2 separate regions of the Homo sapiens genome follow, and region 2 is linked to region 1. The links come from fine-mapping of genetic effects on gene expression. A gene starts in region 1. The other region holds a variant in brackets. All regions are shown on one strand. Distances are from middle to middle. Region 1 holds the start of SOX11 (SRY-box transcription factor 11). Region 2 has its middle 440 kb from the start of LINC01249.

Evidence for each region. PIP is the estimated chance that this variant, and not a neighbour inherited with it, causes the effect. A credible set is the group of variants that fine-mapping cannot tell apart.
Region 2: its variant is the best candidate, but not a certain one, in a credible set for the expression of SOX11 in atrial appendage (GTEx, PIP 0.51).

The regions. Positions count from the first base shown.
Region 1 is chr2:5,685,008-5,700,927 of GRCh38, reverse strand. SOX11 (SRY-box transcription factor 11) reads right to left here and starts at 8,544. Exons shown (of 1, transcript NM_003108.4): 1 at 1-8,544. The coding sequence starts at 8,206. The coding sequence ends at 6,881. It overlaps LINC01248 (long intergenic non-protein coding RNA 1248), which reads left to right and starts at 9,810. Exons shown (of 5, transcript NR_110580.1): 1 at 9,810-9,953. It overlaps LOC124908052 (a long non-coding RNA gene), which reads left to right and starts at 9,965. Exons shown (of 2, transcript XR_007088653.1): 1 at 9,965-11,851; 2 at 13,173-13,300. RefSeq lists silencers at 3,772-3,941, 4,232-4,321.
Region 2 is chr2:5,084,453-5,100,372 of GRCh38, reverse strand. No RefSeq gene overlaps it. Among named protein-coding and RNA genes, the nearest start is that of LINC01249, 440 kb to the right of the region's middle. The variant C/A (reference allele first, on the strand shown) is at 6,606.

The DNA of each region.
Region 1 (15,920 bases):
CCCCACAAACCACTCAGACTTCTACACAAAAGGGTTTTTCAGCTTTTCTGCTCCCAAACCTGGAGTGGCTAAGAAAGTAAGTTTCATGTGGCCTTGGAAAATACACACTTGTTAACAGTGTCATGCTGAAAACTGCTCTAAAACATCAGGTGGTTCTGTCCTGGTGGCCGTCACGAAGCATTATGGGATGCCATAACCACTAGGAGTCCCAAACCGGAAAAAATAGGCCTCCGTTTTAAAACAGTCAATTCAAAAAAAGGTGTCACAGAACAAATGCAAAAGACTCTTAAACCCACAACATATGTACAAGAGTAAAAGTAGACAAAATGGGAAATTAATGAGAATGGAGTATAACGTTTCTCCCTATGTGATTCAAGGGAGGAGGCATACTGTTTTTGAACAAAAGCTGGATGAAGAAAAATGTGACAGAGGGCCCTTTGTCAATATCTATTTGATCAAAATTCTTTATATGATAAATTACTTCCAGTTGTCCTTTTTTTTTTTTTTGGAAGGGGAAATGTAACGTGTCTAAGAAAGTAAGACAAGCATCATATTAAAAAAATCTCTTCGAGGAGCCTAGAGGAAATCCTATTTTTTATGCATTTTTAAACTTTTTGTCATATTGCTTTATTTTTTCATTTTCACAGCAGAAAAAATCAAGTCTACGTGACTACATAAAAGAAGTTTGATCAAACAGTGAGACGGGAGCCTCCACATATGCACATCCAGGTTGCTTAAATTCACCAATTGCTCATTGGAAACCACATCTCAACTCGGTCATATTGCTTTTAGTGGTTTGTTTCTCTGTAGAGAAGTTCTCTGTTCACAACTGCAGGCAACCAAAAGTTCCCAAATCATTTAAAACAGTCCTATCTGTGCACTGGCAGAGGTGCTAGATCTTGTAAGAATATCTCTACCCAATAAAGTTATTACTTTTATACATGGAACATTATGAGCTTGTGTCTCCCTTTGTAAGCCGTTTTATACTTTCTGCACTTTTGTGCTTTTATTGAGTATAAAAATAGGTCTCCTTTAAAATTCTGTTTATTTTAAGTTCACTAAAAAACTACTTGTTTGTGAAATTCTCTTATAAACTCACTGCATCCACATGGAACAGATAAAACTAATTAGGCAGCTAATGGATATAGGTAGTGTTAAAAAAGTACAATGAAAAAAACGAAGGTATGGTAGGAATCAAGGAAAAAAAAAAAAAAAAAAGCCAGCAGTAAGTAAAATGGAAGAGAGCTCAGTTTCATAAATTTTGTTTCATCTTTATTGTGGTTGAAAATGTAGGCTCCACAGGAAGGGGCAAAAACCAAAACTGAACAAAAAAATCCTGAGTTGTTATCAAAGAGCAGAATTTTCCAGATCATTAAATAAAAGGGGATGTTGTAGAATAAATCAAATAGAATGAACAGTGAGAAATAACCAATAATAAAAATAAGCCAAATCTCAGAAAAGTATGTCAAGAGTTACATGGAGACGGTTACTTTGGGAACTTGTAAATCCCTGTGTTAGGATAGGTAAGGCTCATTCTTGTTATCCTCACAGGCTTAGGCTATACAAAGGGTATTTGAAACTGACATTCCTAATGGAAATTTTACAAAATTTGGCCCTTAGAATAACTGAGAAATATCCTGAAAAAATCTTCCCTGAAACTGTAATAAAGAAAGTTTCTTATCTACTGATAAAATTGACAACTCAGTAAACTATTTTCGCTGGTCTTCCTACATAAGAAAAAAGCACAAATATATTTGCCTCAGAAATCTGTTAAAAGCAGGGAACCACACAGTAAAAGAGTATAAAGATTCTATAAATGGGAGAGTCCAAGAAAACCTCTCTCAAAGTGTCCACAAGGATACATATGCCCATTAGAAGAAAAGTAAGAATATACATATTATTAATCATATCAGAGAATAAAAAAGTTAAGATTGATATAATATATTTATATTGAATGACTACTTTAAAATAGAGCAACTTATTTGCCTTATTTCTCAAATTCCTTGGGCAAAAGTCACTTAAATTCTGAAGTAAAAAACAAATGTAAATTTCTTGTACTGTACTAATATCAGATGATTATGATTTCAAGTCCCAGAAGAGAAAAATAAGTCTTGTCTTTTGAGTCTTTTTCTTTCATGAAAAAAGCAACTAAATCACCCTGACTGCTACATTTATGCATATTTAAATCACTTCCCCTTGATTAACATTAAAAAGAAACATCTCTGCCCAAAAGAGTTGTAATGATTTCTTTCTCTAGCTAAAGGATAATCATTCTACAAATAATTTGCCCAGTGTCTGTAGTCATTCATAACATACACAATATTTGCAAAGCACAGTTTAAGTACACTGCCTTTTATTAGCATTTTTTTTTTTTTTAAATAAAAGGGATGCGTATCAGAGTGTAAGAACTGGAAATTACTTCCACAGTTTAAAGAATTAATAAGAGAATGCTGGTTCAATTTCTTAAAGATGGAAAGCTTACCAAAATGCCATCAGAGTCTGTGAACTACTTATAATAAACAGCAGGATCCCCACTGGCTAGGCTGCCGTGCACACAGCACCCACCCGCCACCCCCAGGTTACCATTTTAAGATATTCTGTCAATGCTTAGTTAAAAATAAGACTTACTTAAGAGACCAACAAAAAAAAATCAATTAAACTTTTATTGAAGACTATCCAGTGGCAAGAATACCATGTGTATTATACTATGTTTTAGACACTCAATAAAGAATTCATTAAGATGATTCTCACAACGCACTCATCAAAACAGCCTTAAATATTGTTAAAAAGCGCATTGAAGCGCCTGTCCTGAGTTCTAACAGGTTTTAAATTTAGATTGCCAAACAATTACTTTTATTTTTGTATCAAGTTAGGCCACATGGCTTTAAAAAAAAAAAATCTTGACTATCTCTTCCCATTCTGAAGCCAAATTATTACTTTACTAATTTACTTAAAGTTTCCACCTCACCACAGAAAATGTCCAAGATTCATCTATGATTAAAACAGAAAAGACATGCCAAGTTTTCAGGCTTTCAAAATACATAGATCAGCCTATCAATGGGTTTACGTTGCCAACAAGTTTCGGAACTGCAGCAGAGGGCTGCCACATAAAATCACCAGCACGGAGCACGTGTCAATTGTAAACCGCTGGTTCAATTATCCGTGGCTAAAATAAATGTACCACCAATGGCTGCATTAGTCTACATGTTGAGGGGGTGTGGGGTAAGGTAAACAACTCCAGAAATCCAGTTCTATATTGAGAACCTGGTTAACGCCATCAGCCCCTTCTTTTCCCAAATGTACTACTGAAATCTGATGGTTTATCGAAAGGAAAAAGCCACAGAAAAGAAACCTGTCCATCTGCAGCAAAAGCTTGCTGGCTTCGCATCCCAGGGGTGGGGGCTGGGGAGGAGGCTCGCCCAGAGCGGGAGGCTGGGGGGCGGGTGAGAGGCCCGAGTTCTCAGTCGGGGGGCCGGGGGAGGGGTGGTGGTAAGATCGAGTAAGGCAAAAGCAAGCGGGAGGGGAGGCGGGAAGGGCGCCGGGGCCCCTCTGGCCTAGCAGCTGCAGTTACTGTGCGGACGCTTCCATTCGGTCTCGCCAAATCTCAGTAAAAATGGAAGGCCAAACCTCGGTCAATCATCTCAGTAGGTGAAAGAGTCGTGGTGATTTTGCAGTGAGTTTCAATCAGCCACTGAAAACCTCCTCCGCTGCGGGCGCCGCAGCTCGGGAGGCTGAACTCCGGGGCTGGCACGCTGGGCCCCGAGCGGCCTCCCAGCCTCCCTCCTCCCAGACCCAGCAGAAAAGAGGCGGCGGATGCTCGGAAGGGGGGCGGGAGCCCGGGGCGCGCGTGCCCGGCCGCGATCGCCTGCTCGGGCCTGCCGCGAGGGCTCGGGGACACAGGCCGGTCAGGAAAAATGGTGGGGAGCGAGGGGGTGTGGACAGGCAAACGGGGTTCAGCGAGCGGGGAGCGCCAGCGGGATGGGTCGCGCCCGCGCCGCCGCCGGAGCCCCCAGGAGGCTCCCGGAGAACAATCAAGATGCGGATCCACCTTCGTTGCGGCGGCCCCGGGGAGCTGATTCCGGGGCAGCCCCTGAGCCGGCGCGCGGGGAGGGCGTGGTGAGGGCCCGGGGTGCGCGGGTGCGGCAGCCGCCTGCTCCCCGGGTTTGCTTTCTTCCTCTCACCCCGCAGCCCCGAGGCTTCCCTCCCCGGCCCGCGGGCCCGGGAAGCCAGCGCTGGTGTCTCCGCGCGCCTCAAGGGCCCGCGGCGGGGCGCGCCCAGGAGCACGCGGTGGCGAGGCAAGAAGAGCCAGGCACGGGGACCCGGAGCGTCAGGGCTCTGCCTTGCGCGTCCCGGACTACCGCCCGGGTGCCCTCTGCCACCCCCTGCTCCCCACGCCCTCACCAGTGGTTCGGCCCTCCCAGGCACCCCGGAGACCGCGACTCGGATCGCACAGAGGCCATGCCATGTTCCTCGGGGTGCCCTCGGCCGGCCTGCCGCGTCTTCCCCCGACTCCCGCCTCCCTCCCGCTCGTAGCCTGGGTCCCGCCGCGCCCCGCGCCCCCTGCGGCCCCGCACCGTCCTCCTTCCCTCCGACAGCTCCACGGCCCCGGGGGACAGAAGGAAACAGACACCGACCACTTCTCTCCTTTCCTCTTCCCCTTCCCCCTTCACCGCTAGAGGTCAAACACTGCGGCGGCGTTCTCCGCCAACAACCACCTCTGAGCACACGCGAAGATGCAGCGTTAAAAATAAAGAACAGAAAAAATTCAAATCTGGAAACGGCTGTCCCCACCCTTTGAGAGGCGGGGATAGAAGTGCCCCGAGCGCTCGCTGCCAAAGGCGGCTGTCACCGCGAGGCTCAGCGGGGACGCGGCCCGCCGCAGAGAACACACAAGCCCCAGCGAGCAGGACCCCGACCAAGGGAGCTGGCAACCCAGGCCCCTCCATCCGCCCCTCCCCGGCCAGCTCCCGAGCCTCCGCGCAGCCCGCCCGCCAGGATGGGTGGGGAGAAGAGGCAGGGAGTGGAGGAGGAGGTGAGAAAGGAAATGGGGAGCTGGAGATGGAAAGGGAGGGCAGAGAGAAAGAACACCCTTCCCCTGTCTTTCACAACTAGCGGAAGAGGAAAAAGAAATCAGCCTGCTAATTGAACACTTTTCAGCCTAACCCCCTAAATGTAGAATTCTCTCCTGCCACCTCCCCTCATCCGCGCACACAACAGCCTCACCACCGAATGCTCTGCGACAACAGGACCTCCAGTTTGACTTCCATAGAGACTATTGGCGATGCGAGTTTCTATCAGTTCCAGCTGATTTATTAAAATTGTCAAGATACAGACTTCCAGCACAAAAAAAAAAAAAAAAAAACAGGCAATGATGTCGACAGTGCATTGAGTCTGCTTTGCCACCATTTGCTACAAAATATGCAGATGGTCTGTACTTTATTTAGATTATATTGCACAAAATGAGAAACTTTTTAAACTATGTGCCTTTTTTTTTTCTTTTTTGCTAAAAATCGAGAATCCAGTTTCAAACCTTCCATCTGGGGCCCCATCCACATCACAGCGTATGAGATACATAAAGTCCTACTATAGTACAGTACATATACAATCTTTAAACTAAGATAACAGCTCTGAGGTCTATATCACCATTTTCAATAAATCTTTACCTACAAATATTGAACAAATCTCTACTATAGCTGTACAAAAAAAAGTTTGCTTTTTTTTTTTAAACCACAAGGCCTTTAGATGCAAGGATTATTTTAAAATTTTAATCCTTTTTAAACCAGGACATAACGTACCAACATACTTGCATGCTAAAAAACAGAGGAAAAAAAAGAAATCAAAAGGGAAGAAGTGCCTGAAAGTCTTACTGAAAAAACACAGCAAGAATGTTCCCTTTTCACTGTACAAAAATACGCCTGAAAATATATTAATTTTTAAAAAAGACTGAGGTCTGTTATGTATCAAAAATGTTTCAATACCTTTTGTACTGAGGTCTAGGCTGTCTGGTATTCAATCAAGGAGGTATAAGGGAACAAGTTACAAAAAAAAAGTTGGCAAGTAGAAATCACATTTGTAAAACCATAAACAATTTGATCTGAAAAGTAAACTCTGATCTTAAGTCAGTTCACAGTTTTTTTTTTTGTAAGCGTTTGTACAGTCTGCATTTTTTCAAGCTCCCTGCAGTTTTGTTAAGAATCGGATGCATAGAAGACATCAGTTTTCTCCCTCCAAAAAAAAAAAAAAAAAAAAAAAAAAAAAAAATTAAATTAACAAAAGTTGCAATGGTCCCTTTTTTTGTTAAAAAAAAATCACCAGTTCTTTAAGTTCTCTTAAGAAAAAAAAATATCTCCACCAACTCCCTAGAGTAACAGTTGTGCTGCCAAAAGGGTCCTCTGCAGACGTCTTCCAGACTTCAAAGACCGACAAGCTTCAAACAGCGCCTTCCGGAGCGGGTCCTACCTCCCCTCCCCCGCCCCGCCCCCTCTGCCTTTGTTGCAATCACGAATTTCAGGAAAAAGAAATAGTAATTACAAAAACACATTTTTTGGGAAAATAATCACAACTCCAGACTAGGTATGCAACTACCTTGAGACACGATAAAGGAAGGGAGGGGGGACAAAAAAAGGACAGGAAAAATGTTTAAAAACTACTCATTTCACTTTAACTCCACCAAAATTTTCATCATGTTTTCCAATTTCTTTGCGTCACGACATCTTATCAATATCATCAGCATCTTCTTCTCTCCCCTCCACCCTACCACCGCCACCATCAACACCACCATCATCATCATCATTATCATCATCATCATCACCACTACAACTTCCTCCCAAGGAACCCAGCTCTGCACCCTCCGAGAGAAAGAGCGAGCAGCGGGCGCCTTTCAATATGTGAACACCAGGTCGGAGAAGTTCGCCTCCAGCCAGTCCCCCGCGATCATCTCGCTCAGCTCCGGCGTGCAGTAGTCGGGGAACTCGAAGTGGGAGCCCAGGCTGCCCTCGCTGAACGAATCCAAATCCTTATCCACCAGCGACAGGGACAGGTTCCCGGCCGCCGCGCCGCCCCCCAGCTGCTGCTCGCTGGCGCTGTGCGCGCTTTGAGAGAAATTCAAGCTCAGGTCGAACATCAGGTCGTCGGCGTCCTCGCCGCTGCTGCCGCTGCTGCTGCCGCTGCTGCTGGACGAGGAGGTGGACACCGAGCGCGAGGACGCGGGCGACAGCGCGGGCTGCGCGAGCGGCGGCGGGTGCTGCTTGGTGATGTTCTTGAAGCTGTAGTAGAGGCGGCTGCCGCCCCCGGCGCCCGAGGTCGCGCCGGCCCGCACCTCGTCGTAGAGGCTCGCTCCCTCGGGGGACTCCGCCGAGCTGCTCAGCGTAGGGCTGGCGGGCACTTTGGCGACGTTGTAGCGTCTCAGCAGCTGCGACGGCTGCTGCCCCGGCGGCTGCAGGAGCTGCTGGTGCGGTGGTTCCTCGTCCTCCTCGTCCGGCTCCTGTTTGATCTGCAGCTGCAGCTCGTCGTCGTCGTCGTCGTCGTCGTCGTCCTCATCCAGAAACACGCACTTGACCGTCTTGCCCGCGCCGCCGCCGCCCGAGCCGCTCACGCGCAGGCTGCCCAGCACGTAGTCGTCGCCCGCGCCCCCGTAGTCCCCGGACTGGGCCGCCTTGCCCGCGCCCGCCTTGGCGCCCGCGGCCGCGGGGGCCTTGAGCTTGCCGCATTTCTTGCTGGAGCCCTTGGAGGTCTTGGCACCGCCCGCGCCTCCGCCCGCGCTCCCGCCGCCGCCGCCGGCCGCGCTCTTCTCTGGGCTCTGGCTGGCGCTGGGCTTGGCCGAGGGGTCCATTTTGGGCTTTTTCCGGGGCCGGTACTTGTAGTCGGGGTAGTCGGCCATGTGCTTGAGCCGCAGCCGCTCCGCCTCCCGGATGAACGGGATCTTCTCGCTGTCCTTCAGCATTTTCCAGCGCTTGCCCAGCCTCTTGGAGATCTCGGCGTTGTGCATGTCCGGAGACTGCTCCATGATCTTCCTGCGTTCGATCTTGGACCATACCATGAACGCGTTCATCGGCCGCTTGATGTGGCCCGACGCCGTCTTGCACCAGTCTGGGTCGCTCTCGTCCAGGGCCACCGGGCTGCAAGCCATGAATTCGCCCTCCTCCGTGTCCAGCGCCTCCCGGGGCAGGTTGCTCTCCGCTTCCAAGCTCTCCGCCTGCTGCACCATGATCCGCTGCAGGGCTGGACGCTCCAACCCGGGCCGCTGGGTCTCGTGCGGAGGTCCCCCTCCCCCTCCCACCCCTCCACCTTCCTGGGCAAGTTGCAAAGTCCTCGGCACCCCGCTTTCGCGGCTCCCCCCCTCCCCCCCGCCCCCCCTTCCAGGCTGCACACAGCGGCTGTGGTGGCTTCGGCGACGACGGCCGCCGGCGCGGTGGGAGCTGCGGTCGCGACAGGAGAGGCGGTGGCGACGGCGGTCGAGGCAGCCCGGGACCCCTCTCTCCGGCTCGTGGCTCCTACCGCAAGCGCCGGACCCCGAGCTCTCCCAGGCGCGCGCGCTCCTTCTGCAAAAAGTTGAGGTCTCTCTCTCAACTAGTTATCAGGGTGTCATATGGGTGACATCACTCCCCCAGCTAGCCAATGGCTGGGGGCCGGCTCCGCCCATCTTCCTTTATTAACTCGGAGGCCCCGCCCCTCCACCCCGCCCTCCGGGCTGCTTTGCAAAGATGGGGGTGGGGGGAGAGGAGGCATGTCTAGAAATATGTTATTTTTAAAAAATCCGCGTGTGTGCACAGATGCGCCTGTTCCCGGGATGCTCGGAAGCGGCGCGCGGCACCACGGGGAGCGGGCGGCCCGGGGCGAACCGGGATGGTTCGGGCGCCGGCGCTAACCGAGGACCGGGTCCCGGGAGAGGCCCCGCGCGCCTTTGTGCCCAGTCCCCGGGAGGCCCGACGGCGACAGCGGACGGCGCGCGCTCACTCCCCGGGTGCACACACTCGGGCACGCGCCCAGCCTGAGACGGCGGCCTCCGCCCGGCTCGCGGTCAGCCGCGCCCGGCCTGCCCCGGGGTGGGCGCAGCTGCTCCCCGGCGAGCCCCTCGCGGGGCTCGGCCGCTCCCCCGGGTCGCCGCCCCGAGCCCGCCCGGTAGCCCCGCGGCGGCCCTGGCCGACGGAAGGTGGCGCTTGAAGACAGCAACCTTCCCGGCACGTGGGCTCTGCTCTCCTTTTCCCTTTCTCCCTTTTTGTAAGGCAAAGAAATCAATTTAAAGCTCGAGAGGCGGTGAGCTCCCTCCCCCGTTTTGCATTTTTCTGTTTTGTCCTTTTTCTCCGTCTGTTTTCCCTCCTCGGTGGTGTTTGGGGACGCGGCTGTGCGGGTTGGGCTGCGCCGCGCCCCCGCGCGCCCCGCCCCGGGCGGGGGCCGGAGTAACGGTCTGCGGGGCCCTCGGGTTCAAGCTGGCCACTCCCAGGGCTGGCTCCGGAGCGGGCTCTGGGTCCCGCAGGCTCCAGCAAGCCCGCGCCCCGCCCGGCGTCCCTGCGAGGGGCCCGGCGCCCTCCTTCCCTTCTCCCTCTGCTCCCCGCCCCTCCTCTCCCCGCCCCGTCCTCTCCCCGCCCCTCCGCCGCTCCTTTCTCCTTCCCAGGCCTCCTCTTCCTCTTTGTCCTTCCCCCATCCTCGGTCGCCAGCGCTTCTCCGGCAGCCTCGTCCTGAAATCGTGCGATTGTGAGCTAGAAGCCTTCTGGGTCACTCATAAACCAAAGAGAAAATAAGGTGCACTCGAGTTTCCCGTCTAAATATTTTCCCTGGAGATGGAAAGGTGCGCTGGCGGCCGGGGAGCCGCGACCTGGGGCGCGCTGGGCCTCGCAGAGCAGCCGCGGACCCCGGCGATCGTGCCGTGTTCGTCTCCTTTGTGTTTCTTTATTGAGTCCCTACTACCTCTACGGATATTCTGGGGGCAATTAAAGAAAATCACCGCTTCATAGGTATGGTCTGTCGCCACCCTCGCCTTCTCCACACCCCCCAGCACTGGGTATCTGGGAACTTTGAGCAGTTCCTAAGACACTGCCCGGATCCCTTCACCAGAGAAATCAGCCGTGTAGGACTGGGAAAATTATCCGAATCTGCTTCCTTTCAGGTGCCCTCCTGCAATTAATACTACATTTCTTAAGTATTGGATCTTCTCTGAGGATTCTAATATCATAAAATAATACCGTGTTTTACACAGATCATGATTTGAAAAAATTACCGCCATTGCGATAAGCCATTCCCGCCCCCGTCCCCCACTTCCCCGACTCATCCTAAAGAAAAACACTGCATCGAATACTTGGAATATTCAGACCAACTTAAATCTTGATAATGCTGGCAATTTATTCTTTCCAGGGCCATAGGAACCAAAAGAATTTACAGTCATTCATACTGGGTGACTTAAAGTCTGGAGATGTATAAAATCCAAGGCAGTGTGTGAAAACTCATCTTCACTCCCGCACGGCGAGCACTAGGTCTTGTTTTTCTCTTACAGCTCACACGTTTTTCAGCTATTGGGAACACCACCGGAGGGAGGGTGGGGTGGAGCACAAGGTGAACCTACACCCACCTCCCCACAACTGCAGGACAAATCCACACTCTAGAGAAAAGGATTGAAATATTTCAGCTCAGCTTCATTATTTGCTTGCAAAGTGTGAGGGCACCTACCATTTGGGCCTCGGAAAGAGAATGCATTTGAAAATCTTTGGCAAATTCCATATTGATTTGCTATCTTTACGCTATAGCAAAAATCATGCTTAGCTTTAAAATGAGAATGATCTGAATATAGTAGGAGTGAAAAATAATAGATTTTATTCTCATAGCGCTGCGATCTTTTTAGAGGAAATAAAAGTTAAAATCTGCTCTTTCGAACAAGAAATATAATTTCTGTTCAAGGCAACATGAGCCGTTTGTTGGAGAAGATAAAGCAAAGATTGGGATTGCTAAAGCAGGCACTGAAGGCGGCACAGGCGGGTGCTACAGCTGAATCCCCCCTGTCATGTAGGAGAGGCCAGGCAATTTTCACAAGAGATTAACTAGATTGCTATTTTGTAGCATGGACTCACCCCACATACTTAATGTTGTTAGACGTAGTCGAGTGAGGAATGAAAAAAATGATAATCTGTATACTTTATTTTTGCTCCCTAAGGGAAAATTTTTAAATAAGTATAGCATTTAAAAAAAAATATGGGAACATGTTTGAGAGTACGCATGCTTCTTACAGGAATAATAGTTACTTCTGAAAACAGATGTTTGCGCCATTAACAGTAACCAACTATTTAGAGAAATTTTAGGCTACCAAATAGAAAATATAGCCTTTAATAATGCACCTCTTGAAAACCTAATTTAGTAAAATGGAAATAGGTCTACTGTTTTTTAAGCCACTGAATGTATATCATAATTAGGATCATTGGTTATCTTTTTAGAGCCAATATTCACTCATTTTTGTGTGTGTCTGTCTATATACTTATTTATAAGCAAGATATGTAGTTTGTTTGTTAACCATAAACATTGTTGGATACATAATGTTCAGAATCTTAAGAGTCACATCTGATTAGAGGCACAAATGACTATTTTTATGGTGATTTTTACCTTTTCATAATTCCATCTTTACAAAGAAAATGTCACGTAAAAGGACTATTACATAAAGAGATGAGATATTTCACGATATCTCTCAAAATTATAACACAGCCAGAGTAAGAAGTGTCCCTTTTTCTTAGGAAAGAAGCATTTTTCTAAGCAAATAATATGCTAAAAATATCACTGGGTAAATATTTGACTTATCTGATGGATTGACCACCATTTTTAGAAGTATTGCAACCACATGCATTCCCCATCTCTGAAATGAAGTTATAAGGTAGGATCCTTTCCTTTTTTCTCCCTTTACCTATTCTCCTGAAATGAGTTCACTCCTTATTGTTAGCTGTATCTATTTATCTCAGCTTCAGCCTTAAATCTTGAATTTGGATCTGGTTATATTCTGTCTACTGGACATTCCTTCTTATTCCTTCTTAAGTGTTCCTCAGACCTGGTAATGAGTATAGATCGAACAATCCTACCTTGAAAACACACACACACACACACACACACACACACACAATGAACCAGTGGATGCTGTTACCCTGTTTGGCTCATCAGAACATGTTTCAATAGCTAAAATAATGTTGTTAAGCTTTTCACTCATTTATTCTCTGAATTGACCACTGCAGAGTGTGATCCATGAAAGCCAGAGCAGTTGGGCAGTACAGCACAGGGCAGCGGCTTGGAAATTTATTTTGATCATGACCTATTTTATAAAACACCTTTTTACATCATGACCCAGTACTCATGCTATACACATATAAAGCAGAAACCAAAGCGTCAAAAATCAGTATCTCTCTTTTATGTGCAATTCATACTCTTTTTTATTCTATTCCATTCCATTCCATTTCTGTAAATGCTAGTTAAAACCCACTATTAATGAGGCACCACTGAAGTTTGAAAAACACTGGCTTAGGTGTTCAGAGTTACGGCTCAGAAGCGTTCTGCCCTGGATTGAAAATTCTGGTTCCACTATCTTTTCTTTTTCCCGCGTGGCTCTCATCATGGAGCGCTTGACTTTTAGTTATCAATGCCCAGATAATTCCACAAACGTACTGCCTCCAAAATTCACGTCTTTTGAAATTATTCATATGAGATATGTATTCTATTTTTTTAAATAGACTTTATTTTCTAGAGCAGTTTGAGGTTCACAGCAAACATGAATGGAAAATGCAGAGCCTTCCACATAGTGTCTATCCCCACACATACACAACCACCCCCACTCGGTGGTACATGTGTTACGATCAGTGCATCCACAATGACACATCATAATCATCCAACATGCGTAGTCCACATTAGGCTCACTCTTGGTGTTGTACATTCTGTGGATTTGGATAAATGTATAATGGCAGGTATCCATCATTATAGTGTCATGCAGATTATTTTCATGGCCCTAATCATCTGGCCTCCACCCACCTATTCATCCTTCACCCCTCCAAGCCCTTGGCAACAACTGATTATTTTACTATGGCAATAGTTTTGCCTTTTCCAGAATGTCAAATATATGGAATCATACAGTATGTAGCTTTTTCAGATTGGCTTCCTTAACTTAACAATATGCATTTTATGTTCTTCCATGTCTTTTTATGACTTCATAGCTCATTTCTTTTTGGCAATACATAACATTCCATTGTCTGAGTATACCACAGTTTATCCATCCTCCTACAGAAGGACATCATGGCTGCTTCCATGTTTTGGCAATGATGAATAAAATCTGTTACAAGCATCCTTGTGCAGCTTTGTGTGTAGATGTAAGTGTTCAACTTGCTTGGGTAAATATCAAAGAGTGATACTGCTCTATCGTGTGGTAAGAGGTTGTATAATTTCATAAGAAACTTTCAAACTGTCTTCCAAAGTGGCTGTCCCATTTTGCATTCCCAACAGCAACGAATGAGAGTTTCTACTATTCTACATCTTCGTCAGAATTTGCTGTTGTCACTATTTTAGATTGTAGCCATTCTACTCGGTCTGAAGTGCTATCTCATTTTTGTTGTAATTTACATTTCCCTAGGCATATGAGATGGACTGTCTTTCCAAATATTTACTTGCCCTCAGTATATCTTCTTTAGTGATATATCTCTTCAGGTTTTTGGCCCATTTTTTTTAAATCAGGTTTTTCATGTGCTTATTGTGAAGCTTTAAGACTTCTTTGTATATTTTGGGTAACAGTCTTTTATCAGACATGTCTTTTGCAAATAACTTCCCCTAGTCTGTGGCTTGTTTTCTCATTTTCTTGATAGTGTCTTTTACACAAGTTATTTAACTTATCCTGTGCCTTCGTTTTCCAGTCTATAAAATAGGATACCAGTAACCATTCCATCATGTGCGTGCACGCGCACACACACACACACACTCATGTGTGCAGAGACACAGTCCAGGTCCTGCTTGATTTGTTAGAATTGCTATAATGATTAAATACATATGAAGTGCTTAGAACAGTGCTGCGCACAGTAGAACGTTTACAAATGTAGTCTTTATTATTTTAATATTTCTTCTTCTGTGCCTGAAAGGGTTCCTGGCATACCGTAACTATTGTGTAAGTTATGAAGGGATTTTCATATTTGCTCACATACCCCAGTAAGCTCAGTCAATTCTCCTACCCGAGTCACTCCTGAGTTCACTTCCTCCTGCATGTTTTGACCATCAGTGTGTATGTTTCAGTTTTCCTCTGGGCTTTACACATTTTTTAGTAATGGACACCAAACTGATGTCCCTGTTTCCACTCTGCAGACAGACTATTCATTCCAACATGCAACAGGGACCATGGGACTTGCCAGCGTCATGCTCAGGATGCCCTTCACCATTAGGACAAAATCCACGTCCCTTTGCAATGCAAGCAAGGCATGACTCTTCTCGTTTTGCCTCTGTAGTTTCATCTTTGTCACAATTAAGGAAAACACAGAGTATCAGCAGGGCAGGATAGCACAGGGCAGGGGCTTCAAACTTATTTTGACTATGATCTGACATATGAAATGGATTTTTACATCATGACCCAGCACACAAATGAACACACACACACACACACAGATGTACACACACAGAATATACACATGCAACATTGGAGCTAACACCAAGAGGGATGTCTGTGGTTTCAGATCACACTGTTTCACGTGTTCACACTGTTCCTGTTAACCAGGCATTGGCTAGAACTTCCTATCTTTTACAGTTTAAACAAACCTTATTTTTATTAAAAATATATTTATTCAACCATTTTTTAGTGGGAGGAATATGCTCTAAAAAAGACATTTAACTAGAAAACTCAGGGAATTTTTAAATGAAGTTAAATAATTTCCCCCAAAACAGTTATTTTTTTTGTTGAGCAAGCAGCACTATCGTCCAGTGTGGCCTGCTCTCTTAGCTCCAAAAAAGAGAGTGGGGGGCTTTAGGGGCTGGGGTGGGGAGATGGCTCCTGCCCTCTCCCATCTAAATCAAAGACAGAGGCGGAGCCTGCACCAGTGCTGGAGAGCAAGTCCTAGAGTTGCAGTCTACACATGAAGGGAGAGGGGCCAGTGTCTCCTGGAGACATTGCTCCCTTTCTATCAGTATCTTTGTCTTATACACCCAAGAAGACATGTATGGTTCCAAATGTGTGATTGTTAAGTGTGTATGTGTGTGTTTGGAAGTGTAATATAAAAAGAAATGAATAGTCAATTTTGAAAGCACAATTTTAAAATTTGCCAAATCTGGTTTCTTCAAAACATGGCTATTATCCTGATTTGTTTGTCTTAATCACTTCTTAGCTAGAGAAAACATCCATGTGAATAGCTATGAATGTGTCATTGTTTTCGATGATACAGACAAGAGGGGATGGGGAGAGCTGGTAACTCAGGCAAACACGTGTCCGGTAGATTTCTGGGATTTGATAAGCACAAGTGCAGGAGGAGGGTGTCTGTGGATAGTCCTCACCGGGAACAGGGAATCATCGGCTTTGGCAGGTGCAGCGTCTCCCCTCCACCTTGATAGGCTGAGGGAAAGCCCTAGCCAGGACTCTTTCTAAATCACCAAGCTGTGTGGCCAGGTTGCTTTACCCACTCCCCGCGACCCATGAGCCCTGTAATCAACTACATTTTGCTGTAATTGACTCTTGAACTTAGGTGTCTGCTGTTGTTTTTCTTTCTGGCCCTCGATGCATCAATAGCTCTTTCTGTACTCTGTCTCTGTCTGTCAGCTTTGAAAACACTTACATTACTTTTGTTATTCCAAATAAAGTAAGGTATAGGCAGAGATGTGTGAAGCACAGGTAACCATTAAATTCTAAGTAATCATAACATGAACAAGAAATACAGTGACCTTTCCTTGGAGAGGGCATTCACTAAAAATTCTACCAATTTGTGGTCATCATTAGG
Region 2 (15,920 bases), 600 kb after region 1:
GACAAGCTGATTCTAAAGCTCATATGGGATTTCAGGGAAATTAGCCAAAACAATCTTTACAAAGGAAAACCAAATAGAAGTAGTTATATTTCACGATTTCAAACTACTTCAAATCTGTAGTAACTAAGTTAGGGTGAAACTGACAAAAAGTCAATCACATAGAACAATGGAATAAAACTGAAAGCACCCCAGAAGAAAATCTATGTATTTATGGTCAAATGATAATCCATAAGAGTACAAAATTATTCAATGAGGAAAGAATAGCCTTTTCAAAAAATGGTGCTGGAACAACTGTATAGCAACATGCAAGTGGATGAAGCTGGACATTTACTTCACACCACATACAAAAATTGACCGAAAATGGATCAGACCCAAATGTAAAAGCAAAATTTGTAAAATTCTTATGATAAAACAGAGTTAAATAAATCTTTACGACCTTAATTTTACCAAAGGAGTCCTACATATGACACCAAAAAGCACAGCATCAAAATAAATATATAAGTTGCATTTTATCAAATATTTTTTTTCAAAGTGATGGCTTTCAAAGCAGCATTAAGACAGTAAAACATCAACCTGAAGAATGGTAGAAAACATTTTTAAAGCATCTATCTGCAAGAGACTCATTTCCAGAATATATAAAGAACTCTTACAATTCAATAATAAAGAAAAAGAACCTAATTTTTTAAAAAAAAAAAAAAAACATGAGCAAAGGACCTGAACAGACACTTCAGCATGTAAAACATACAAATGGACAACAAACACATGACAATGTGCTTGACATCATCAGTCATCAGGGAAATGCAAGTCAAAATCACAATAAAATACTACATTACATCTTGTAGGATGGCTAAAATCAAAAAGTCACCTAACAACAAGTATTGGCAAAGGAGGAAAAATCGTAACACTAGCACAAGGCTGGTGGGAATGTGAAATGGTGCAGCCACTCTGGAAAACAATCGGACACACCCTCAAATGATGAAGCAGAGAATTTCCATATAACCCAGCAGTTCCACCGTGAGGTTCATGCCCAAGTAAAATGAAAACACGTCCACATAAGAGCTTATACACAAATCACAATAGCCTAGAAATGGAAACAACCCAAATGTCCACCAACTATTAGATTGGTGCAAAAGTAATCATGGATTTTGCCATTACTTTCAATGGCAAACTGCAATTACTTTTGCACCAACCTAATAACAAATGTATAGGAAGATATGTTATACCCATACAATGAAATATTATGTAGCCATAAAAAGGAATTAAGTACTGACATATGCCACAACAGGGATGAACTTTGAAAACATTATGCTGAGAGAAACCTGTCATGAAGCACAAAATATTGTATGATTTCATCTATATCAAATGGCCTGAACAGGCCAAACTATAGAGACAGAAATCAGATTAGTGATGGCTTAGAGCTGGGGATGAGGTGAGAGACAGGAGGATAGAGGAGCAAAAGCTAAAAACTACAGAGTTGCTTTTTGAGATGATGAAAATGTTTTAAAATTGAGGGTTGTGATGACTGCAGCACATTGGCATTTTAGCCATGGCTACTGTCACTGAAGAGGACATAGTTGGTACACTTTGAGGACACAGCTGTCAAGGAAGAAAGCTGTGCATCCCTGCATGGGCTTTCCAACAGTCATGAAATGGAAATGCCTCAACTCCTTGAAAAAAATAAAGGTTAAGGAGAAGTTAAGATGTCAATATTACTGAATTTAAGAAATGTCTTATCTATGATTTAGGATACTTTTTGTTTTCTTGCAGTCTATATACTAAGACTATAAAAATGTGAGTGAAATATTTTAGAATGTTTTATGGAGCCAAACATACAGTTATGTTCATGGCAGAATGACAGAGTGAAAACTAATTCCAGAAAGTTCTGGAAGAGAAGCAAACAACTGTGTCCAAAGGAAGTCAGGAATCCCATGGGCTCACATCAGAAAACACCCTATGATGGTGATTAAGGGCAAGATCTTTGGAATTCCTCAGACGCACTTGGATCTAGGTCTCTCATTAACAAGAAAGGAGTTTCTGAGCAAGTAACAATTTCTGAGGGTGTGTTGCTTCATCTGTAAAGTAGGGATAATATCTATTTAGATAGGTTATTGGAAAAATTAAATTAGATCTTGTGCATAAAGCACTCTATTAGGTTCAATTAGGAAACTGAAGATATAACTGATATAACTGAAAATATAGCAAATATTTTAGTCGAAAGTATATAACATATGAGAGACAACATAGTTTTAAGAGAGAACCTAAGCAGGATTTTATATAAAATTTAGTAGGGAGCTGAAAAAAACAAAAACAAAACAAAACAACAACACTGAGACATGAAGGTAGCAACTACAGGAAGTAGCTTGCCCTACTCTTTAGGACTGGCAGAACTAGAAAGACAGATGTGTACTATTGGAACTTAGAAGCCTCAAGGGGGGTGCATGGAGCTGAAACATAAGACGCCCAAGGAAAGGCTGTTGCTGGGCTCTATGAGAAAACAGGATTACTCTCTGGTTCTCTGAGTACTGAAGAGCTGCTAAATGTCTTTACCTGCTGCTGCAGACAGAAGCATGGGGTGATTTTTGGACGTTGTTTGTAGGACCAGGAAAAAGACAGGGAAAAAGCAGAAAAAAACAAGTCCTTACCTACTTCTGCCTGCCTTGCTCTTGTAAGCCTTTTGCCAAAACTGAATTTAGAGCCAGCTGTCACAGCAGAAAAATTATCTGCAGAGCCTAAATCCAGCATCACAAAGAAAAGGAGCAAAGATTGGGTTTGGAGCTGGGAGATAGGAGCTTAATCACCATCACAAGCAGTTTATAAAAAATTAGAATTGATAAGCCTTAATTATTATTGCAAATATCATCATGACCAGTGGATAATCTGGAAGTGAAAGACCTCTAGAATCAACTCCCTTAATAAAGAACATCAGATTTTGAGGACTCCTAATGCCTAAGGGATTTTTACTATTTCATATGCCATGCATTCGTAACAGACTTGTCAAACATTAATGTCTCTTTTAATTATTTTACATTAAGAAGCCTAGAAAGGGCTGGGCATGGTGGCTTATGCCTGTAATGCCAGCACTTTGAGAGGTCAAGGCAAGTGGATCACTTGAGGCCAGAAATTTGAGACCAGCCTGGCCAACATGGTGAAAACCCCTCTCTACTAAAAATACAAAAATTGGCCCAGCATGGTGGTGTGCACCTGTAGTCCCAGCTACTCGGGAGATGAGGCACAAATCGCTTGAACCCAGGAGGTGGATGTTGCAGTGAACTGAGGTCACACCATTGCACTAAAGCCTGGGTGACAGAGCGAGACCCTGTTTCAAAATAATAATAATTTTAAAAGTCTAGTAAGAATGTTGTAGAGGCTGTGCCTGTTCAATAGGTCAGTAATCTTTATGGCACTATAAATGCTTTACAAAGAGGAAATATTTCTAATCTATGCATCGGAAATTATACAATTTCATAATTTAAAAATTGATCAAACTATTTATTCTGATTTGGGATTTAGGATTTAGAAAATAAGTTCAGTATACTCACGACACTGGACTTACTGTCATTTTCATCGGAGTCCTGATGTTAGAGTGGGTAGCTAGGCAGACATGAGCAAGGCAGGAGGGGGCCCCCTCCGAGGAATATAAGGCAACCATCAGGTGATGGTCATGAGGTTGTTAAACTGTTTCTCTAAAATAGTAATTGCTCACATCTGGAGCTAGGGAAAGGTAGTCTTCCAATATATAGAAAACACCTGAAGCTGGTGATGAGCCGCTTCTCAGTAAGATTCAAGGAGTTGGGTGAGTAGGCTTGAGCATGCGCACTAAGAGGCAAAATGGCGGAGTTTAACTGGTATAATGACCCTCCTCTAGGAACACTTGACTAGTAAGAAATGCCTCAAATGACCATGTGCACAGCTCCAGTAAACAGACTGCATTTGTGGCCCCTCCTAAGTGCTTGCAGGCCACTGCTCACTGTGGGCAGCCCACTCCAGTGAAAAATCAAAGGAGAGATGCAAAAAACCCTGAAAGTATGTCAACTTATAAAACCCCAAGTCAAAGGACTAAATGGTGCACTTGAATCTCTTAAGTTGCCTGCTTGGACCTGTTCCAAGTGTACTTTATTTCCTTTTGTTCCTGCTCTAAAACTTTTTAATAAACTTTCACTCCAACCCTAAAACTTGCCTCAGTCTCTCGCTCTGGCTTATGCCACTCAGATGAATTCTTTCCCATGAGGCAGCAGGAATTGAGTCGCTGAGACCTGTACAGATTCACCACTGCTAACACTGATATTTCCTCTGTAATGATGATTTCAAGATCTAAAACATAATTTACTTTAAGGCCCCTTGTGGCAGACATGGACTTATGAGGCTCCAATTTCCCTTCAAGAACTTGTTGATCAGCTATAAGAAGTGCAAGTAGCTGATGGCCTTCGGCAATTGCACCTTTGGGATCCACGGCACTGTTTGAACTGAGGTCATGCTTCTCCCGGCAGCTCCCAGCCGGTGACTAGGCAAGACAGCAGTACAAGAAAACATCTGCCCATGCAGGACTCATTAAAAGCCACGCTTTATGCCGGAGCTCCTTTTGGGGCTGGGTTAGAAATGCTCAGAGCTTCACTGCACTCTGAGGCTCCTTCTACCCAAGCATCCTCTGCCTTTACCCTCTATTTGTCCAAGTCAGGTCTGTATTATGCTCTGAAGGCTCTCCTTGACAATACTGCTTGCTCTTTCTTTATCCTCAATGGGAAGTACCCCAAATAATTTTTTTCCTCTAACACCATCTTGGCAACTGTTCCTTTTTGTTTTGATATCCTTAATTCTAACCTGTTTTTCCTTTTTTTTAAAAAAAATAGCTTTATGGAGATACAATTCCCATAAGATAAAATTTACCAATGTAAACTGTACAATTCAGTGGATTTTAGGGTATTCACAGATACGTGCAAATAGCACCACCATCAATTCTGGAATATCATTATTCCCTTTCTGCCCAACCTCAGTCCTGAATAACTACTAATCCACTTTCTGCCTCTATGGATATCTTTATTCTGGACATTTCAAATAAATGGAATCATATAACATGTGGTCTTTTGTGTCAAGCTTCTTTCATTTAGTATAACGTTTTTAAGGTTCATCCATATGCTAACATGTATCAGTACTCTATATTTTTTATAGCCAAGTCATATTCCATTGTATGGTCATTTCATATTTTGTTTATCCACTCACCTGTTGATGGACATCTGAGTTATTTTTACCTTTTGGATATTATGAATGATACTGCCATAAACATTCATGTGCAGGCATTTTTGTGGACATATCCTTTCATTTCAGTTGGGCACATACCTAGGAGTGGAATTGCTGAATCAGATGGAAACCATTAATTACTATGGGAACTGACAGACTGTTTTCCAAAGGATTTTGCCCCATTTTACATTTCTACCAGCAATGCACAAGTGTTCCAATTTCTCCACATTCTTGCCAACATTTATCTGACTTTTTGATTCTAGCCATCCTAGTGGGAGTGTAGTTGTATTTCATTATGGTTTTGACTTACGTTTCTATGATGATTAATGATGCCAAGCATATTTTCTTGTGCTAATTGACCATTTGTGTCTCTTCTTTAGAGATTGTGACTTCTTGGATGAATCTGTTTCTGAGGCCAGTTTTTTGTTTTTTTGAGACAGGGTCTCACTCTGTCACCTAGACTGGAGTGCGGTGGCACAATGTTGGCTCACTGCAACCTCTGCCTCCTGGGCTCAAGGAATTTTTCTGCCTCAGCCTCCTGATTAGCTGGGATTACCAGCACACACCACCACATCCAGCTAATTTTTTTTTTTTATATTGTTAGTAGAGACGAGGTTTCACCATGTTGGCCAGGCTGTGAAGTCAGTTTTTGATATTTGTTCTGACACTAAGAGGACTCTACCCAGCTGTTCTAATCTACAGTTGATCTTTGAACAACACGGGTATGAGCTATGAGCATCTACTTACATGTGGTTTTTCTTCTGCCTCTGCCACCCATGAGCCAGTAAAACCAATGCCTCTGTTACTGATGGAAGGTATCTGAGTTACTGATGGCGAATCCTCGTGGGTCTGCAGCAGCCTCAATTCTTGCCGCCTCAGAAGAAAAAATTTGACTGAGGGGCATAAGGCAACAAAAGAGACCAAGGCAGGTTTCAGAGCAGGAGTGGAAGTTTATTTTAAAAGGCTTTAAAATGGGAAAGAAAATAAGGAAAGTACGCTTGGAAGAGACTCAAGGGGGCACCGAGGTCAAGTGCAGTGTTTAACCTTCATCCTAGGACTTTAAACACTGGGCCCTTTCCCATGGTTTTTCCCTTAGGGTGGGCTGCCCACATGCACAGTAAGGGCCCCCCTTACCCTGGGGAGGTGAGCACGTGCAGTATGTTTACGAAGTTGTGCACATGCCTCTCTGAGGCTTTCTTCCCTTTTCCAGGGGAGTGTCTTCAGAAGGTTATACTCTGCCGTTTTGTCTCTTAATGCGCCCGCTCAGGAAGCTGTGTCTCCCTGGTGCCTGCATTCAATTAACATTTTAGTGCAGCACTTGTGGATTTTCCGAAAATGGCCTCTCCCTGGCACCGGCTGCCAATTTATCA[C/A]TTTTAAAGAGGCAATGTGATAAGTACCAAACCATCACCGGGTATTTCTAGTGGGTGGGGAAAGAGCCCTCTCCTGCCCTGCTCATACTTGTCTAACTACGTGTAACACCTCCTTTTCCTCCTCCTCTCAGCCTACTCAGTGTGAAGGCGATAAAGGTGAAGACCTTTATGATGATCCACTTCCACTTAATGAGTAGTAAAAATATTTTCTCCTTCTTATGATTTACTTAATAATATTTTCCTTTCTCTAGCTTACTCCATTGTAAGAATACAATGTGTAATACCTATAAGCTACAAAATCTATGTTAGTCAACTGTTTATGTTATCAGTAAGACTTCCTGTCAACAGTAAGCTATTAATAGTTAGTTTTGGGGGCAGCCAAACATTATACACAGGTTTTTAACTGCATAGGGGGTCAGGGCTTCTAACTTCCATGTTGTTCAAGGGTCAAGTGTACATCTGTCTTCTGAAAGCTAGCTGGATTATGGTCTAACCTGTACCATTATGTGACTCATAAATTCCTTTCAGATTTTTCACCACAACTCCACTCTTCTTGAGAAAGCCCTTGGTCTTGACTTTCTCCATATTTTATTGCCAATGAAGTCAATGCCTTTGGGAAGGGATCAGGAGCTGTTTTAAATCTGTTTCTCCCCCAGGCATATCTCTTAACCAGGACTCTGGAGCCTGGGTGGGGACAATGACAAGTCTCTCTTTGAGTGACACCACACTCTAGTAGGTGGTGCTGGGTGGGCTAGTGAAGCAGCCAGCTGAGGTCCTCTCAGTTTATGACTGCAGGCCTAGGATCACCACCTCATTAGTTGGGTCAGGGTTATGAGGAAGCTGGTGTCATCAGCCTGCCATGCTTTGAGTGGGCATTGCAGTCACCCAAGTCTCATCCCCAACACAAACTAGCTGGAGGTGAGATGAGAAATACTGATGTTCTGGGAAGACAGCCTCCAGCCGAGAGCCAGGGAAAGGGACCCCAGTGCTTGGCAGCACTGGAAGTCTGGAGTAGAGAGTCCACCTCACTGAGCTGTAGCCATCTTCATTCAAAATAAGACAGACTTTGTTCTTCCTTGCTGATATTTGTAAATGTTCTTGAATAGATGTTTCTTTATGTGCTAATTGTACTTAGTACCATTTCCAGGGACCTTTAATTTTTTTTTATAGTTTTCAGAAATTTATCTGGTCAGTGGAGCTCTACACCATCAAGGTATCATAACTCTCTTTTTATTGAAAAAATAACATATGCAAACAGGACTAATTTGGAAACCAACCCACAAATAAACATTGGATGACATAATATCTACCACTCAGAATTATAATTATATTTGAACATGTGTCATGGATGTAAAGTGATTATTGTAGTGCCTAACAAATGATGCCTATAACACATAGTTCCAAAGATAATGTGGGAGCTAAGAATGGTGAGTAATTTTTTTAGTAACAGCCAAATAAATGGCGAGAATGAGCTTCCTCTAGAAACTTGTGATGGAGCGGGCACAGGAAAAATAAGATCTGTAGTTTAACTGAAGCACTCCACTGCTTGTGAGGAACAAAAGCAGCATGGGATGTGGTCCCTGCCCTCCAGGGAACTGCAAATTAGTTTAGAAGACAAGATGCTGACTTTCAAAATATGTACTTAATCTGTGAGGCCACTTAGAAATCATCTAATACAGTGCTCTTAATATAAATGAGGAAATGAAGGCTCAGGGATTCACTTTCTAAGATTTCTACATGCTATGGTAGAAGTGATCTAATCTAGAATACACACCTAATTTGACCTAGTGATCATTCTGTAAATAACTATATTGTGAAGCTGTCTGTAATTGGTGTTCCTGAGAAGCAATTACTGCTGGAATTCAGATGTAGGGGCCATCACTACAGTTGCTGTGATTAGAGAAGGCTGCAGCTTAGAGCTGAAGGTTGGTTTATCCCAGCTGTGAGGCAGTGGGGCTCAATATGAATGTAAAATAGAATTAATGAGCAGCTTTCAAAAACCCCACCGACCATACCTCACCACAGGTGTCAGTATTTTTTAATGTGCTCCAATCGATTCTAATGTATAGCCCAGGTTCAGAAGCATCATTGTAATGGAAAGATAGGAGCGATCAGCAACAGTTAGAGGAAAGTATTTCCAATAAGGAAGATTGATTACCTAGTGCAAGGAAGTAGAAAATTGTGTAATGTTTTGAAAAGACTGAAAACATAGATATTTACAAATATATTTATTGTTAAATGTATCAATCCCACCTGTGTACCTATCTGGATTTATTTTACAGTGGTCAAAAGCCACTAACTGTTTGGGGAGGAAGCAATAGGACTGAACCCTATTGCTTAGAAGATTAAAATGGGAAGACACAGGGAGCGTCCTCCAAAAGCAGGTGTCATGTTTCTCCAGTTCCTGCAGTGACTTGTAGGTATCTGTATCCCAGGGTACAGTCTTGTAGTTTGGTCCTTCCAGCTGGAAGGATTTTAGGCACTCTGAAGGATTTACCTTTGTTCTCAGGTCTGGAGTCAGTCTTGTCCATTTTGGATTGAGGACAATTAAGGCAACAGGATGACAGCTAATATCTATAGTAGACCCACAAAGTGCATGCACATTATCTCGTCTAGCTCACTGAGTTAGTGCTACGCAAGGAGTCAATGGGTATTACATTCTCAGCATTGGCCAACCTGATTACCAGTTTTCTTGATGTGATGTGCCCAGGGGTGAAGCCCATGAAAATCATGCTGTCTTTCTCTTTCTCGATTCTTCTAGAATCACTTCCTATGATACATATCATTGTGCATTGTGGGTTACATGCATATTTTGTCCTAAATTGGATATCATATTATACCTTTTTTGAATTTCTATTATCTGATACATAATAATACCCCACAAATATTTGTGTTAGTACCACCACTTTATAGCTGGAGGAGCTGAAGCTCAGGGAAATAGCTCGCCTGGAGTGACAGACTGATTAAGGCATAGCTGGTACTGGAGCCCAGGCTGACTACGGATGTCTGCACTTACGAGCTGCCTCCACTTGGATGTGTTTTCAACCCTAGACTGGTGAGACTGTGCTGGCATGTCTGGCCTGTTTTCCTAAAGCCTGGTACACCTGAGAGCTAATAGGCTCCAAATAAGTGTGTATTGATTGAATAAGATCTCCTGCCAGCCTTGCTTACTGCCCTAGAACTATGAAGAAAGTGCGGCCAGCCTACCAAGGAGACATCAGCTAAAGCGGAGATATGTTCTAACGGCCCATGGGCCGATTTAATCCATGTGAAGAATCGGGACCATGACAATTAGGTGCCATGAAGCAGATTCTGGTTTGTTTCAAAAAAATTTTTTTTCTGCTACTGGACCCTCCAAATTGAAATTGACTTCATAATGACGAAGAAGATTCTGTGTCACTGGGGCCTTTAGAAAAGGAGGGCAATCTTCCCTTTGGTCTGCACATTATTGAAGATACTCATGCATCAGTTTTCAATATGGATTGCACGCAATATTCATAAGGGAGATTTTACTAACACCTGGGCTCTGCTTCAAACCAATAAAAACCAACCCTCAGCAGGGAGAACTAGACATCAGTAAAGTGTCCAAGTTTACCTGGCAATTCCAGTGTGCAGCCAGGATTGAGAATGACTGAACTGGGGTGAGACAAGAGTGAGGAATCATTAATAATGATTGTTATGTGGGAATATGTAAAAAATATGGACAGACTCTCAGGTTTACTAGTTTATGATTCCTGGGGGAAGGAAATATAATAGTTTATGATTCCTGGATGAAGGAGTTTAAGAAGGAGGAAGAAGAAGCTTCTATTTTAAAAAGTCTCCAAGGTGATTCAGATGGGCCTTCCTAGCCCTAGGATGTAGATCTGCATCCCAGAACATTCAGACTAGAGCTCAGCGCTTGTGTGACGTCTCTTGACTGTCCCAGGTGTGTGGGTCACCCAATCTGGACCCTGCCCAGAACACAGGGCCCCCTCTAGCAAAAATATTTAGGTACCAGTTCCATCCATGCCCGGCTTATATCATTGTCTTATTTCCCCGAAATTGGAATATACCTCAATCCAAATTCTGCTCGTGCTGGCTTCTGGGTTCCTCTCAGTGTCTTCCAGCCTGCAGGGCCCAGGTTGGTCTGGTCTATGGCGGCCTAGCACAGTGCTGTAAAACAGACATCTTTCTCCTGGTATCTGCTTTGACAGCAAAAGCTTTTTACTCCCTGTGTGTTTAATTTTAATTTGCTTTGTAGTATCAAGGCATTCTGGGCACCTGTCAGGTCAGGCTATAAAAGGAGATCTGCAAAAGATTAAGTTATTCAATGCCGGGTCTTTTTGAACTGCAGCATACAGGGAGGGAGTCTCATTTTTATAATCTCTTTCTCCAAGATGCAAAGGCCTAAAAGCTGGCCTTTCTCTTCAAAACATGAATGCTTTAACCTAAGAGAGGAAGGGTCTTTCTTTCATGTCAGTTAGAGTCAGCCATCAGGCACAGACACACACAAATAGAAACGCATCAATTCATCATCAGTGGCTCTTGATTGTATACAGCCAGGCCCTGGGCCCTTTTCCATCACAGGTAATTACAGGTGAGCTACATGACAGAGCCTCAGTCAGTGTCATCATTTCTAGATTATGCTGTTTTTTAAATCCTAGTAACATTTGTTACAATATATATGAGAAAAGTTAATCATGCTTATAAACCAGTTTATAGATATAGATGTATTTTGTAGATGTACATAATTTCAAAAATAGTCAATATACACAGACTAGTAGACACTTCAAAATGATGAATTGATAATTTCTTGCTTATCTTGGTATATTGAGCAATTACCTAACATCAAAGAATTTTGGCTGTGTGTTAAATAAGCTCATTTACATTTTTATTTTTCATTCTTTTGTTCTCTCTTTCAGTGCCTCCACTACACAGAGGTTCAAAATCACTAAATGCAAACACCAAGACATTAGATCTGGAATGTAGTCTTCAAAACTGGTAGCCCCCGAGATGCTGGGCACAGGCATTGAGCGCCAAGAATAACCACATTAATTCAGACCTCTCCTTTAGTCCTCGAAGTCTAATTTAAATGCTGATGATGTTTGTACATTGGCTTAAAAAAAAAAATCTCTTTACAGAAAACTCTTCACTGTTTTCACACAGGACTCTGCTTTAGATTTTCTCAAATCTATCACTAACCACCCATAGAGTTTTTCAATACTGGTAAAGTTAAATGTTGGTATTTTTACAAGGTAACTCATGCAGGGATAAGCTTTGGTGTCATTTAATCTGTATCTGTAGCTGAACACTGACTGGATCTTTTTTGTAGCTTTTGAGTAGCCTTCTGGAGATTAATCTGGGGATGGATTGCTCCTTGGTGTAGCCTCAGAGTCCAATCAGAGTCAGCCCATTTGGTGGTTTAGATAACCAGGTCTACTAGGCTCTTTAATCTTATTCTAGGAGATATGACTGGCGTTTAGGATCTGCTTTCCGCAATGGAAGACTTGGCAGCATCCTTTTGTTGAAGGATGATATCAGTCCACCTTCTAGTATCACCTCAGTTCTGTTCATGGTTTGTTGCTTATGTAACTCTAAAGTATGAAACAGTGGTTGGCACTTAGGAGATGACCTGCAAGCATTTTTACTTGTTAAATAAATGCTATTGACATGTAACCATAGTTAAAGTATTGTATACTCAAATTTTTCAGATCTTTTTCTTACCAAATAAAGGTAACTCTGAGGTGACAAATATATTAATTAGTTTGACTCTGAAAATCATTGCACAAGGTATACTTATATCAAAACACGTTTTACATCTTAAGTATATAAAATTTTTATTTGTCAATCATACCTCAATAAAGCTGACAAAAATTAGTTAATTAATTAATGCTATTTATTGCCAATTCTTCCTCCAGCCAAATATTCATTCATGTGGAGTTCAATGGAAAGTTTATCTTGGACACTGATGTGGTTTGGCTCTGTGTCACCACCTAAATCTCACGTTGAATTTTAATCCCCCAGTGTTGGAGGTGGGGTCTGGTGGGAGGTGATTGGATCATGGGGGTGGTTTCTAATGGTTTAACACCATCCCCCTAGTGCTGCCTCATGATAGAGTTCTCATGAGATCTGGTTGTTTAAAAGTGTGTAGTACTTCCCCCTTCATGCCTTCGTGCTACCTCTCTCTCCCTCATTCTTTCTCTCTCTCCTGTTGCCATGTAAAGATGTGCTTGCTTCCCTTTCCAGTTGTGGCCTTCCGCCATGATTGTAAGTTTCCTGAAGCCTTCCAGCCATGCTTTCTATACAGCCTGTGAAACTGGAGTCAATTAAATCTCCTTTTGTTATAAATTACCCAGTCTCGGGTAGTTCCTTATAGCAATCTGAGAACAGACTAATACAGACACATTGCTGTCTCCTTGGACACAATACATCTTAAGCCAAAGCATGTTTTCTTCTTTATGGGCTTTTTTGGTCTAAAGCACACTTAACCTCTTAATCCATATATATATATGTGTGTGTATATATATATATGTGTGTGTGTGTGTGTGTGTGTGTGTGTGTATATATATATATGTAATATAGGAAGCCCTAAATGTATTTTAAGGTTCTGATGAAAAGTCATCCTTCTTATAAAGTTTTCCCAGTTCCCCTTCCACAAACCTATTATTATCACTCTCCTTTCTGTGTTAAAGCACACTGTTCATTCCACTGGGAGCTTTACCACATTATAGTTTTGTATTAATGGTACTAATAATTATCATTTACTGAGTGTTTTTGTGACTGGCATGAATGGTTATATTATTACAGATTGGCTATTCCAAGCACTATTTTTATATGAACTTTCAAACCTCCAAGCCTCCAATCACTCCCCTACTGCCTGTTGACTAAGGTCTGGTGACTTCCCCTGAAGACCCTGCCAAAAGGCCACCCCATTGTCCTCCTCATGAAGGGGCCAGACAGGGCCTCCTCAGTTGGGCTGTTTGTCTTTCTTGTCTCCCCTGGCTTCTTGCTAACTCTCCCCCAGAATCCTGAATATGACATAGTAAGTGTCTTACCACTGCCTTAACTCAGGTGCATGGGGTCAGAAATGGACCCTGGATCTGCGTGGAGATACTCTCAGATTCTGTTCCTTCCCTGTGCTCCATGCTTCGACATAGCTTATGGTTCAGTTCCACGCCTGGGTTCTCCATTCTTTACAGTGTGTGTTACTCTAGGGTCTACACAGTGCTTTCATCATGACTTTATTCTTCAAAACAAGGCTATAAAGATGAGTAGAGGGTACTGTCGCCTATTGTTGGTGGACAGGAAGATAAAGGGATGCTGTGTAAGGTGCCCAATTCAAGCATAGAAAATGCTCAAGTTGAATTCACGTCTATTTCTTTTCCTGTCCCACCATGCTGCCTCCAGTTCTGGAGACTGCTTGTTTTGCAGAGCCTTGACTTGGTTCTCAATAAACAATCTTAAGTCCTGGAAATTCTGTCTCCAATATAGTCTCCAACGTTCTGAAATTATTGTGGCAGGTCTGGACCTGATGCCTTCCTCTTATGTGGATTTTTTTTTCAGACACTGGCAATATTGCAAGTATAGTTATCATTCAATCTCAACAAAGTGTCTTCCAAATATAAAAATCTAAATAAAAACTGTCTCAAGAGATTTGAAAATACGATAATCATTCTGGTGATTGATATGATTGTTCACAGCTGAAACTCATCAGTTCTCTCATGTCTACTTCAAATAAATGTATATAATTTGGGGCAAGTCAGCTAAATTTGCTTAGCATCAGAAACTTCAAAATTGGTACAATAAAAATAGCTAATACTTGTACTAGGGACTCCTTCATGTAGCATCTTGTTTGATCCTCACAACTTTGTGAGGCAAGTACTATTATTACTTTCATTTAATGATGAGAAAACAGAGACACACAGAGCTTAAAAGTGTCCAGGGCCACATAAGTAAAATGTGCTGAATTCAGGAACTGGATGCATGAGCAATGCTCATGAATACTGTGTTGAATTTTCCTCTAATAAAACTGCCCCGCCATCAAGTATGGTTCTACTTATTAAAATGAGATGCCGCTTGTTAAAATTTAGCCTATATAATTGCTCATTACGGTGAATATGAGTTTGCATATACAGTGAGTCCTTCCTTATGTCATCAATAGGTTCCTGGAAACTGGGGTTTTAAGCACCTTGTATAAGGTGCTTAAAAGTTTTAAGCACAATGTAAAGGAAGTCAGTATTACTGTAGGCTAATTGATATGAACATGACTTAAATTCGTATGCATATTTCTGGTCACAAAAACATCATCAAACTTCAAAATAAAGACCCTAAAACACTGCTAATATTGAACATTGGAATAAATGAGAGTTATGTATACATTTAAGAAAGGCTAATAAAAACAAGTAAGATATTTATCTGGTGATTCCAGTTCAGGGGTGAACTGGAGCCTGTCTGGGCGGCTCAGGGTCTAAGGCAGGAACCAGCCCTGGACAGGACGCCATCCCATCACAGAGTGCCCTCATACACACACTCAATTCATGCAGAAGGAGGCCACTGAGACACACCAGTGAACCTAACCGCACAACTTTGGGATGTGGGAGGAAACTGAGTACCTGGAGAAAACCCACACAGAGAGTTGCCCTGACCGGAGGCAATGTTTATTCTCATCAACTTTATTACAAAACAACATTGAACAGAATGACATTATTTGAGGACCTGCCATACCTCTGCCTTGAAAAACAGGGCTGAATTAACTTAAGTGAAGTGTTTTCCTTAATTGGTGTATCTATGTGACAATATTAGTTTAGACACAGTCTCTGCTAAGAAAGACATTTGGAACCCAAACTTCAAAGACTAAAACATTCTTCTCTCAAAAGCAATTACTTGTGACTGAAAAATGCAGGAGAAAAGTTTCATGGAAACAACCTACCACCAAAATGAAACACCTTTCAAACACTTATCATCATAAATGCTACACTTGGAATAAGTCGTTTATTTTGATAAGACTTTGAGGTAAATATTCTTAGTTTCCCATGCTATAGGTGAAGAGATAGAGGTACAGAGAATGTAAGCCACTTGTCCAAAACTAGTAAGTGGCAGAGCTGGGATGGTAACCCAAGCAGTCCAGCTCCGAGCCTGTGTTTTACCTGCTTCTTGCACTGCTCCTCTCCCAGGGATTGGGAACCATGTAAAGCTAGGATCAGTTTGTGGACACAGTCTTCATGTGGGTGAAGCTCAAGTCAGAGGAATGGGTCCAACCAGTCCCCATGTGGCGAGCACCCCATGCTACGGTGATGCTCTCTGTTCACTGGCCACACCCCTGCACAGGAGCACTTG